Regions from separate parts of the Homo sapiens genome. Here regions 1 and 3 are each reported to be linked to region 2. Evidence: microRNA targets listed by miRTarBase, many of them from high-throughput screens and not tested one by one. Region 2 holds a microRNA gene; each other region holds the end of a gene's coding sequence.

Region 1 (4,343 bases), not on the chromosome of region 2:
AGAAAGAGTGAAAAGAGAAGTGTTCAGTCAGGGTTTCTGAGTCTCAACACCCACCATCTCCCATCCAGACCCAAATCAATCTTAAGATATTGCTAGAATTTGCCATGCATTTAAATAGAACTTCAAAGGGGAAATGAGACGGGATGGCAACTCTTTTTACACTGAAGGAATAGAACAGATAGAATTCCCTGTAGCTGGGTGACCGAATTCTCAGCCAGAGTGCAATCGGCAAAAGGATTACTTGGTGGTGGAGAGCCGTCTCTTTCCTTTTCATCACCTCTCCTTCAACCTAGGCCAAGTGCAAAGGGAAAGCCGTGGGCAAAGAGGACACTAGTGCCAATGGGGGTGATTAGAGGAGAATGTAACCTTTCTCTGAGCCCCCTGACCAGGTATAACATATGTAAAAATGTCATGTTTGCCTTTCCTCATGCCATCCCACATTTCCTTGATGTCCTTTTTTCAACTGCTAGAATCTTTTCAAATCTGCATGGTTTGACTACTATTAGCAAGACAGGTATGAGAGTTCATATTTTGTGTGACTTGAAGTAAGCCTGCAGAATGTCAGTTGGGGCTACCATTTCTCCAAAGTTCTCTTTGATGCTCTTATTACACAGAACCAAATCATTATGGATCTAGGTCATCTTGCATTTCTACCTTAGGAAGGTGTGGAATGGAGGGAAACGCTGTGGTTCGCGTGTCATACGTGCCAGGTCGCTGGAGCCTGGACTGGCTCAGCAGTCTGGACGGTCTGTTCAGGACCGCCCCAAAGGCCAATTCCAGTGAATGAGTCTCCTTACCAGCAACCTGATATTCAGGTCAGATGTAGCTTAGGAGAGAAGTTTCAGTAATCAGAACCTTGTGGGTGGGAAAATGTTCCCTGTGGGTTCTGATCACAGATCTTGTGAGTGTTAACGCAGGTGGGGTACAGGTAAACAACCTCTTCCGGTGGGGAATATGTGGAGATGTCCAGCAGAGAATGCACTGCCATGCTTTCTTCAACAGTATATTTAGTAGCAAATTCTGAAAAGCACACTGGGGCTTAATGCATTTTATTTACACTTGAATATACCAGGGATTCATGCCAGTGGAACATGGATTAAAACAATCCACAGAGAAGTCCAAAGTTAATTTTAGTTATTGCTTCAATGTCCAAACCTCAGGCTAACTCTTACACAGCTTGATTAGGTTGGGTGTGAAGAATTTCAGAGTGGTGAAGGCTGTTAAATACTGAAGTGAATAAGAGAAGCAATAATAATTCCCTCCTGGAGAAGAATAGAGAGCTGTACCTGACTGAATGGTCTAAGTAGTGTCATTTGATGGAGTTTGGACAATGTCCTACGACAGTTCCTTTAAGACTTGGGCTTCTGTAAATTCTACCAAAGCATCATCAATCTGTGCTTCTCTGACTTTTTTCCTTTCTTTATGCATCTATTGTGGAGAAAATAAGCCCAACGTTGAAGATCAAAGAGACAAATCAGAACTGGACAAGCAGTCACACAGCGAATAACAGTGCAGCCCTGCACGGGGGCTACCTGGATTTGCAGCCTGACTCTGCCACTGACGAGCTTCATGACTGGGCAAATAATTTCTCCTCTGTGTGCCTGAGTTTTCTAATAGGTAAGAAGGAGAACATCGTAATAAATAGCATACAGAATTGTTGTGAGGTTTAAATGAGTTAATCTATAGAGATCAGTGCCCAGTACGTGATAAACAATTAACATTAGTTATGATTATGATTATTGTTATCACATGTGATGCACATAATCATAGAGTACCTTCCATCAGAGTGCAAACCATATTCCTGGAATGATCATATGTACTTCACAGGTAGCCAAATGACAGAAAGAGGGTATGGGGAACTCTGCCAAGCTCATGCTGTGAGTTAGATCCCTTAACTGCTTCCAATTCTTGAGACTTATCCAAGATAAATTATATTCGCCTCTCATGTTATAATGAAGATCAAGATTTGAACTAATATTTTTATGTGTTAACAAGGTACAAGGGTAATCTGAGCAGCACACAAAATCTCTCTACTGGGCACTTTTGTGAAAGAACAGAAATAACTTTGGTATCAAGAGGAAACAAGGGGAAAAACTACCAGTTTCTTTCTTAAAAATCTTTTTTGCCTAGTGAGAGATTTGGTTTCTTAGCCTAGCTTATTAAAATATAAAATAGCCAATATTTCAAAAACACTTTTAACTGATGACTCTACTGTCTTGAGTCTAGAATTAAACATGTAACAATAAATCTTTTCTGGAAAATAATAAATCTGTACCAGGTAGTGCTTTTTGTACCATCTTTGCTTCTAACTTCTGAATGTTAACAGGCAAGCCCTTGGCCTCTGTAGGCCACAATTTTCTCATCTGTAAAACAGACAGGGGTACCTAACTTCTCGTTCTCCAAGGTTGATGTGAGATGGAAACAGCTAACAGATTCATAGCACAGCAAACACGGTGGAAACACAGAAAGATCTATCTATCTATCTATATCTATCTATCTATATATATGTAATATTACTGACATCAAATCATACTACTGTGTTATTTTATTCTACTAGAAAAAAACTAAGTTATTTATTTTCTTTTTATGAAACAACACAGTGAGCTCATAGTAAATAGACATCTTTAATGTTCGTCTCTTCTTCCTCATCACCTTCAGCTTTGCCCACGCACAGACCCTTTCCCCTGTCCCAACACTAAAGTGACCAAATCACAACCAGTGAGACTGAGAAAAAAATTCGAGGTAATGGAGACTTCATGTACATTTCTTCCCCTTGTGGTGATTCCTAGTTCTTCTCCATGGAGACAGTTGGGGTCTCTCCTTGCTTTTTACATCCAGAGGATACAGGGACAGAATTCGTGGGAGAGAAGGCAGAGAAGGGTTTCTTCTTTCATCATAAAATGTTCCTTGTAAAAAATATGATATATATGCATACATATATATATATAATATACCCAGTGCAATTGCAATTGTTCTGCCAAATACTGAGAACTGCCACCTTGGGTGATGTATTTCTGGAGTTTTCAACAGTTGTCTAACAACAGCTGCATTTTAGTAAGACTTGGGCAGGTGGCTCCAGATAAGCCACTTGCCACTCACATTCAGGCTGAGGCTTCCATGTTCACAGTCCAAAGGAAAAAAGTGTATCTTTGCGTCTGGAGTGGGCATTGTAGGGAAGGGATGGGCAGGAAGGGATCTGGAGGCTGAGAGGTGAGGAAGAAGGAATTGACTTCTCTTTACTTCTCTACCACAGTCTTAGATGCAAGTACACATACAATTTAAAATCTGACAGTAGTAGTGCTATAATCACACTACCTAACAAAATAATTCACATCAGCATAAAAAATATTCACACCAAAAAGTTTCATTTTCTTTCCCCCGTTCCAAGAAAGCTTATGATATCACATCACCTGACTCAGCAATCTCACCACAGATATTTCCAGTGATTCGGCCAAAAGTCATTAAACATAACTCAGTCTTTGGATTTGCTCTTTCAGCAGCAGGACTTATTTTTAGATGAATTTCTGTAGTTGTGGTTTTTGGTTTTCCCAACACACTGAGAAGTCTGAAGTCTCTGCCTTCCCCCATGTCCTCATCCACGGAGTGAGAGGCACAGATGCTGAGCCTCCAAGGCTGGTCAGAAGGGAAGGGGAAGGGGAAACCCTGGGTCAGCAGATCAGCTCAGGAGGGATGCACCACAGAGGGAATAACGACGAGCTGCAAACCAAGATCAGAAGCTGTTACAAACCCACTCCATTTCAGCTCTGAGTGCCATCAATTGCACTATGCAGAGACCTACAGGGAAGAAGGTGGGCGGTCTAAAACCAGTACACATCCTTGCTTTTGTCCTGAGGCTGCAAACCTGAAAATAGAGAGAAGATAAAAGAGAGAGGAGGTGGAGAGGGAGGGAAAGAGAGGGAGAGGGAGAGAGAGAAGAAGAAGGAGAAGGAGAAGGAGGAGAACAAAGAAGAAGAGGAGGAGGAGGAAGACAAAGGGAGGGAGAAAGAAGGAATGGGGGAGGGAAGGCACAAGATATTTAAGGAAAGAAGGACAAAACACCACTGTTTTATTGTGAAAGTCACAGACTTCACCTAAAGTTGGGGGCGGGGTGGGGAGGGGGGCGGTGACTGAAAGTAAAAGCAAAGCAAACCGAAAAGTCAAATCACTTGAGGAAAGGGGCAGTGGGCAGACTATAAAGCCAGTGATTGCACTTATTATATAACTATTTCTTTCATTTGCCCTAAAAATAAGAAAAGAAGGCAAAAAAGCAAGCCCTTATTAGACTGTACGTTGCAAATACTTTAAGCCAAAGACTTAGGATTGTCATTTTAAAATATTCTTTA
Region 2 (4,343 bases):
TTCATTATGAAGACCATGTAGCAACAAGGAAAACATTTATAAATGTTTAGTGAAAATAGCAGAACCCCAGATGGTATACCCTTTGACTATAACCGTGCACACTGAGAGAGAGCATGTAGACAGGGCCAGGAGGTAACATGCAAAACAGGGTAGTTGTGCAGAGGATAGGCTTATAGTTACTTTTTTCTTTGCCAAAATTAAAAACAATTTTACTGTTACATTCTTTTTTCATAATAGGAATGACTAATTCCTGCCCTTCTACCATGCTGGCTTGTTCAGCGGACCAAATGAAAAACTGAGAAAACTGTTGTGTCTTCCCGTAGGATGTTGGAGTGAATCTACCATGCATGACTCATGTTTCCATCCCTATCATCCTGGGTAGGGAAGCACCAAGCTGAGGACTCTGGATCCTTTCAGGCTCTAATGACAATGCACATCCAGCATTTGTGGAGTATGTATACAGTTGTCTGGGCCAACTACTGTGGGAAGAGGAAAAGAAGTCACATTGCTACTGGTCATCAAGAGCTCACAAAATAGATGTAGACATCATTTGGGGCTATCTACTTATCCTAGTGATTCTCAACTGAGGTTGATACTTAAATTTTTTTTTTTCATTTTCTTTTTTTTTTAAGTTTCAAGAGGTTGATACTTTTGATTGTCACAATGATTGGCTTTTGATTGTCACAATGATTGGGAGCGTTATTACCACTCACATATAGTAAATGAAGGATGGGATAGTCCTACACAAAAAATTATCTAGCTCCAAATGTCCTCAGTGTCTCTGATGAGAAACACTGATCTAGTCCATAGTCAGGGCTGCCAGGTATGGGTGTGCAGGTTGCCCACTGTACAACTCTTAAGGGAACCATTCACCTGGTGGCTAAGTGTGTCAATTCTGAAACCATACTGCCTGAGTTCCAGTGCCAACTGGAACTGCCCCCCACCCCCTACTTCTTTTTTTTTTTTTGAGACCGAGTCTTTCTCCACCACCCAGGCTGCAGTCCAGTGGCACAGTCACAGCTCACTGCAGACTCTACCTCCCGGGCTCAAGTGATTCTCCTACCTCAGCCTCTTGAATAGCTGGGACCACAGGCACCACCACCACACCTGGTTACTTTTTAAATTTTTTGTAGAGATAAGGTCTCCCTATGTTGCCCAGGCTGGACTCAAAACTCTGAGGCTCAGGTGATCCTCCTGCCTCGGCCTCCCAAAGTGCTGGGATTACAGGTGTGAGCCACCGGACCTGGCCTGGAAGCTCTTGAACATATTGCTTATCTTCTGTGGACCTCAGTTTCCTCATTTATAAAATGGGAAGAGCAATAGTAATATAACTCATACTGATAACATAAGAATATGTTATCAATAATATATGTTCCTGCACATAGCAGACATTCAATTCATGTTCAATGATTATTATTCTCTGAGATCTGACTTCCCCATTGACTGGGGTGGGGCCCTGGTGTCTACTCCCTGATAAAGACCACGTATGCCTGGATTCCTGCTCTCCCTGAGGCTTAACTTTCCTGGTTCCACCTGTAATCTCATTGAGAACTCCCATTGTTGCCTAAACTTGCTTGAGATGGTTTTTGTAATCTACAACCAGAAGTCTTAATTACTAAGACAAGGTGAAAAGACTCACCTGTAGGAAACACAGTAGATAATACAAAAGGGCTTTCAAGTTAGTGTGAGACTGCTTGGCATAGAAAGACGATAAATGCCACAGACAAAACCTAATCGTAACTGAAATAAATAAATTCGAACAACAAATTGTTAAGTGAATGGAATGCAGCTAGCTAGGATCTCATGCTCTGTTCTAAGAAAACAGACAGGTCAAACAATCAGGACCAGTCCAGACATGTGTCTGGGAAGTTAAAGGAAAGAGACCCTGTCCCTCAAAACCTTCCTTACTAGTGACTCATGTCTTCGTTTACCAGGAGGTCTTCTTTGAAAATATGAATGTTTCTGGGAAGGGTAATCCAGAAACCTACTGAGGCTCACCCTACTAGGAATGTATTTACCATTTTTCTTTTCTTTCATGTCTGTTCATTGAGAACACAGAGAATGTATTTATTCAGTGACTTTCTCTCTCCTCCACTTCCCAACCCCAGCTACAAATGGGGACAGCAAGAGAGAGAAAACCTGGGGAGAACGGAAGAAACCATGCTTTGTAGAATGGATCCTGCTTCAGAATTGCTGATCTCATCAACCACATGTTTATAGAGAGAGCAGTGGCCCTTAAGGAACTGGAGAGAATGCTCTGATTTACTTCTGTCCGGCATGGTGAACAGCAGGATTGGCTGTAGCTGTTCTCTTTGCCAAGGACAGATCTGATCTGATTGCCTTGAGGTGAAAGTGAGGTAAGGTGGGGCGGGGATTAGCTTTTGGCTCCCAAGAATGGTTGTTCATCAACCTTTTGCTAAGCCCGTGGTTCTCAAATTTTGCTGCATGTTAGAATCACCTGGGAAGCTTTAAAAAAACATCTCAGTACCCAGGTTGTACCTCAGACCAATTAAATCTGAATGCCTGGGGGCGGTTGCCAGGCATCAGAAGTTTTCAAAGACCTCCCCCAACCAGGTGGTTCCTGGACATGTACCCACGTCCGGGAACCACTGTCCTCAGCATTTATTGTATGAGGCAACTTAGGTGACACACAACAGGTGAGAACCTGGCTCCTGCCTTTCGGACACAGGACTTAATTTTTTTTTTATTTTTTAAATTATGCAGTAAAATTTTTTCTGTTGGTGTACAGGTCTATGAATTTTTTTATACTGAGTTTTTCATACTGCCTGAGTACAATTTAATGGTATACCATAAAGTATACCATAATTTTATGGTATACCGTAACATTTTACATACCATAATTTTATTTTTATAAAGTATACCCACAATTTTATGGTATACCATAAAACTAGTATAGTATACCACAAAATTTACCCTTTTAAATTATACAATTCAATGCTCACTTCAGCAGCACATATACTAAAATTGGAATGATACAAAGAAAATTAGCATGACCCTTGCTCAAAGATGACACTGTAATTTGTGAAGTGTTCCATATTTAAAAAAAAATTTTTTTTAAAGTGTACAACTCAGCCATATGCAGTGGTTCCCACCTGTAATCCCAGGGTTTTGAGGCCAGGCACGGTGGCTCACGCCTATGATCTCAACACTTTGGGAGGCCGAGGTGGGTAGATCACCTGAGGTCAGGTGTTCAAGACCAGACTGTCCAATATGGTGAAACATCATCTCTACTAAAAATACAAAAACTAGCCGGGCATGGTGGTGTGTGCTTGTAATCCCAGCTACTCGGGAGCCTGAGGCGAGAGAATCGCTTGAACCCAGGAGGCGGAGGTTGCAGTGAGCCAAGATTGTGCCACTGCTCTCCAGCCTGGGTGACAGAGCAAGACTCTGTCTCAAAAAAAAAAAAAAAGGCTGGGTGTGGTGGCTCACACCTGTAATCCCCAGTACTTTGGGAGGCCGAGGCGGGCAGATCACCTGAGGTCAGGATTTCCAGACCAGCCTGACCAACATGGTGAAACCCCATCTCTACTAAAAATACAAAATTAGCCGGGCATGGTGGCGCATGCCTGTAATCCCAGCTGCTCAGGAGGCTGAGGCAGGATAATTGCTTGAACCCGGGAGGTGGAGGTTGCGGTGAGCCAAGATCTCGCCATTGCACTTCAGCCTAGGCAAGAAGAGTGAAGCTCTGTCTCAAAAAAAACAATCCCAGGGTTTTGGGATGCCTAGGCGGAGGCTCACTTGAGGCCAGGAGTTTGAGACCAGCCTGGGCAATGCAGCGAGACCCTGTCTCTACCAATAAATGAATGAATGAATAAATAAATAAATAAATAAATAAATAAATAAATAAATAAATAAAATTAGCTGGGGATGGTGGCAAGTGCCTTTAATCCTAGCTGCTCAGGAGGCTGAGACAGGAGGATTGCTTGAGCCCAAGAGTTTGGGGTTACAGTGAGCTATGATCACGTCACTACACTCTGGCTAGGGTGACAGAGAAAGACCTTGTCTCTAAAAAAGAGAGGAAAACAAGTTACCAAATTATACAATTATCTGTTCAGACCTAGATTTACAAGAAAAAAAATGTAAAATTTCGTGTTTTTAGTATATTTGTAAAGTTGTGCCACCATCACCAGTAATTCCAGAACATTTTTATCTCGTCTCCCCAAAATACCCCGAATCCACAGTAGCTTCTCCCCATTTCCCCTTCCGCCCACCCCCTGGCAAATACGAGCCATAGAGACTCTCTCCCTCTATGGCTTTGCCTACTCTTGATATGTCACATAAATGAAATCACACAATCTGTGGCCTTTTATGTCAAGCTTATT
Region 3 (4,039 bases), not on the chromosome of region 2:
CTTCAGGAGTTTATCTAGTTTATTTCCCTAGGTTACATTGGCTAGGAACCTTTTGCAAATGTGTGAAGATTTGTATATAGGTTCAATATTCTCAACCTGTAAAGTCAGAGAACTAAGTTTTAAGCAAGCATTAAAAATATATAGGCTCAGGAGCATGATTTGGATTATTCTCAGCCCCAGAACAAACATGGAAATTAGAAAGCCAGGAATGCAAGGAATACAGATCATTCATAGAAAGAAGGAAGAGAAGGGGGACCCTAATATAGGGCTTAGTTTTTTAAGATGAAGTCTTGCTCTGTCACCTAGGCTGGAGTACAGTGGCGCAGTGACGACTTACTGCAGCCTCAACCTCCCAGGCTGAAGTGATCCCCCTACCTCAGCCTCCCAAGCTGCTGGGACTACAGGCACTCGCCACCACACCCAGCTAATTTTTTTGTTGTCTTTTGTAGAGATGGGGTCTCACCACATTGCCCAGGCTGGTCTCGAACTCCCAGGCCCAAGAGATCCAACCACGACAGCCTCCCAAAGTGCTGGGATTACAGGCTTGAGACACTATGTCTGATGGGGCATTTATTTTTGAAAGCATTCAGATGTACATGAGTCCCTTTGCAGAAAGGCAGTTTGTTGGATATTACTTGTCATGCTAAGGTCCTTTCCTGTCTCCTTCATAGGCAACCCCGTGAAAATCCTTTCCAGAATCTGAAGGTACTCTTGGTATCAGACCAACAGCAGAACTTCCTGGAGCTCTGGTCTGAGATCCTCATGACTGGTGGTGCAGCCTCTGTGAAGCAGCACCATTCAAGTGCCCATAACAAAGGTACCTGAAAGAGTGTGTGTAGTGTCTTTGTTCCAGGGATCTCCTTAGACCTGTAGGTGTTAGGCCTTGTGGTCCAAGGCTCAGGCCTAATAGGTTGACCGTATCCATGTTTCTTAGAGAAGAAAAGTACCACCTTCAAGAGGTGAGTCAACATAAGTGAAGCACTGGACGTATATTTGTTAAATATTTCTACAAGGTCAGCACATAGTGATTATAACTCTGCCTTTGGTCATGATCAGTAGCAGTGTGTTTGACATAATAGGGCTTTGGTTTGTGCAGAGTGGGATGTATTGGTTAGAATCAAATCTCTCTTTCTAATGGAGGGCTAAGTTGAGTGTCCTTTCCTTCTTCACTTTCCCTTGCTCCTTGCAGATATTGCTTTAGGGGTATTTGATGTGGTGGTGACGGACCCCTCATGCCCAGCCTCGGTGCTGAAGTGTGCTGAAGCATTGCAGCTGCCTGTGGTGTCACAAGAGTGGGTGATCCAGTGCCTCATTGTTGGGGAGAGAATTGGATTCAAGCAGCATCCAAAATATAAACACGATTATGTTTCTCACTAAAGATACTTGGTCTTACTGGTTTTATTCCCTGCTATCGTGGAGATTGTGTTTTAACCAGGTTTTAAATGTGTCTTGTGTGTAACTGGATTCCTTGCATGGATCTTGTATATAGTTTTATTTGCTGAACTTTTATGATAAAATAAATGTTGAATCTCTTTGGTTGTAGTAACTGGGATTTCTTCATCTGTTTTTTTGAGCTTAATCTCAGAACAAATGACAAGACATAGTACTTTCTCTGAGTCTTTCAACAGGCTTATTCACTTACGGAGGACAGCTGGCCAAGGAAATTGAAAAGTTAAGAGTGAACTTTATTCTGTGGCATCATTCCCAAAAGGTTATTCCAGGGTGTCTAAAATGCTATGCTTGCAGAAACTCAGTTTAAGGTAGGTGAAGGCCCAGATTAACAGTTGTGCCAAAAGTTGAGTGGAATTGGGCACAGCTCTGTTTCCTGACAGTTAAAAAAGACCTCATGCTCTCTCTCTGAGCTGAGATCACAGCTCACCTGTGGGTACTCCCCAACTCTTAGAGCTAAAGGGAGAACGAAAGGACCAACTGCCATGAAGGGACAGTGACCATAAGCTTGATGGAATGACCTTCCGTAAGATAAACATGGGAAGCACAAGTGAGAACACCTGGAAATGTTACACGTTCTAGTCAAAGACCCAATATTATTATTATTATTATTGTCACAATAGCTGGAAGCAGTTCCTTCCCTTCCTCTGGCATCACTGATCCCTGCATGGCTTCTCATTCTCTAAAGCAGGGGTCAACAAGGTTTTTTTCTGTAAAGGGTCAAAGAGTAAATATTTCAGGCTTTGTGGGCCATTTGATCCATCACAACTACTCGCCTTTGCTGTGAGGGCATGAAAGCAACCATAGACAATGAGTAAACAAATGGGCATGGCTGTGTTTCAGTAAAACTGTACAAAAACAGACAGCAGGCCATAGTTTGCCAGCTCCTGCTCCAGAGACAGCAGTAGAAAGGGTGATCTTTAGTTGATAATAGCAGGGAATAAGTTGTCAGAGCTTCCCAGTGTGTGTAGAATATGTAGTGATGAAAACCAGATGCAGTGACTATAACCTGATGCCAGAACACTGCATTCTTTTTCAGTTTGGAGGGCGTTGTTCAGTGAATATTTCTTTTTACTTACACTGATATGAATATTGATTACCAGTGATGGCTGGGCCATATTAAGATAACTTCAACCCCTATGGTTTGTGTAAGATGGGTAATTGGGCCTGCAATCTTCAGTATTTAAAAATCTAACAACTTGATCTCAATTTTTTCTTAAGGACCTTTTTCTTGGAGAATAATACTTTTTTTTTTTTTTTTTTTTTTTTTGAGACGGAATTTCGCTCTTGTTGCCCGGGCTGGAATGCAATGGCACAATCTCAGCTCACTGCAGCGTCTGCTTCCCAGGTTCAAGCAATTCTCCTGTCTCAGCCTCCTGAGTAGCTGGGATTACAGGCACATGCCACCACACCTGGCTAATTTTTGTATTTTTAGTAGAATCGAGGTTTCATCATGTTGGTCAGGCTGGTCTCAAACTCCTGACTTCAGGTGATCCGCCCGCCTCGGCCTCCCAAAGTGCTGGGATTACAGGTGTGAGCCACCATGCCCGGCCTAAGAAATACTTTTAAGTATATTTTCATTAGCTAGAATTGCCCAATCTGTGTAGGTATAAATTACTTGGTATAGGGAGAGAGAAAGCCTATCTTACCTGTTGCTTTCTTACTTGGTGGTAACATCCAGCAGTTAGTCTATTTATAAACATAATTACTTTTTCACATATGAACCATAAAATATTTAACTTTCTGCTCTATATTGTTTGTTTACCGCTGTATCTCCCACAGCTTGAACAGTACCAAGGTACGTAGTAGGTGCTCAATAAATGACTATTGAATAAATGAACATATCCAACAAATGTTCTCAATGTAAAGGATCAGAGATGCCACATGTTCTCCTTGATGGGAGAGACCCTTCCACATGGGAATGATGGGAAGGAGTTGTACTCCTGGATGTTCAGTAACTGCTTCTAGGAGAAAAGGTAGAGTCCTATCACTAAGCCGCAGATATTTATTTGTGTGTGGCTAGAATGGGATGTTTTGAATCTTCTGTTACAACCTTGGGAACGTGGCTGTTATTTCAATTTATGAGCCAGAAATTTTCACATCCCGAAACTACAAAAGAGAAAAAGAGCCTTATTAAGTGTCATGCTTTCCCAAGACTACCTTCAAAGAAATATGAATCAGGATAACCTGTGATCTAAATAATGTCATCTTAAAACTGAAGAGTTTCTTTTGACTCTTCTGCTACAATAGCTTAGAAAAAAATCTGCTTGCAGACATTTTAGAGAGAAAGGACAATGAAGTGATTTTCTGAATGGGAATGACAGACCTCTGGGAAGCCAGCTACCACTGAATCTCGGTATCAGTTTTTTTTAAAGTTTAGAGTTAGAAGGGGTGGTCGCCTCCTTTCACAGATGCGGAAGCTAGGGACCAGCAAGGCGGGGTGCCCACGGCTGCACAGCTAGTTCATATCAGAATTGGGAGTGGAAGGCCCACTGCCTCCCAGCATAGCAATACATAACCTAGCAAAGGACTTAACACCTATCTCACTGTCAGGTTTTTTAGTATTTTATGATGATGATGACTTCTACTA

The links. Region 2 holds the annotated microRNA hsa-miR-2117 (UGUUCUCUUUGCCAAGGACAG, at 2,305-2,325, shown strand). A microRNA usually pairs through its seed, bases 2 to 8, with sites in the 3' UTR of a target mRNA and lowers its output. Matches are read on the target gene's strand: a 7mer-m8 pairs with bases 2 to 8, a 7mer-A1 pairs with bases 2 to 7 and ends in A, and an 8mer does both.
Region 1: the mRNA of VGLL2 is a reported target of hsa-miR-2117. The part of its 3' UTR that is shown has no 7-base or 8-base seed match.
Region 3: miRTarBase lists TUBGCP4 as a target of hsa-miR-2117. Seed matches in the 3' UTR shown: 7mer-A1 at 3,335-3,341 and 7mer-A1 at 3,303-3,309.

What each region holds. Positions count from the first base shown.
Region 1 is chr6:117,271,828-117,276,170 of GRCh38, reverse strand. It overlaps VGLL2 (vestigial like family member 2), which reads right to left. Exons shown (of 4, transcript NM_182645.3): 4 at 2,606-3,717. The coding sequence ends at 3,677. Among named protein-coding and RNA genes, the nearest start is that of VGLL2, 8.4 kb to the right of the region's middle.
Region 2 is chr17:43,442,552-43,446,894 of GRCh38, forward strand. MIR2117 (microRNA 2117) reads left to right here and starts at 2,255; the gene lies at 2,255-2,334. It overlaps MIR2117HG (MIR2117 host gene), which reads left to right and starts at 2,156. Exons shown (of 2, transcript NR_146952.1): 1 at 2,156-2,357. It also overlaps the pseudogene RNU6-406P.
Region 3 is chr15:43,404,721-43,408,759 of GRCh38, reverse strand. It overlaps TUBGCP4 (tubulin gamma complex component 4), which reads right to left. Exons shown (of 18, transcript NM_014444.5): 18 at 1-3,558. The coding sequence ends at 3,546. It overlaps TP53BP1 (tumor protein p53 binding protein 1), which reads left to right. Exons shown (of 28, transcript NM_001141980.3): 27 at 672-817; 28 at 1,190-4,039. The coding sequence ends at 1,377. Among named protein-coding and RNA genes, the nearest start is that of TUBGCP4, 36 kb to the right of the region's middle.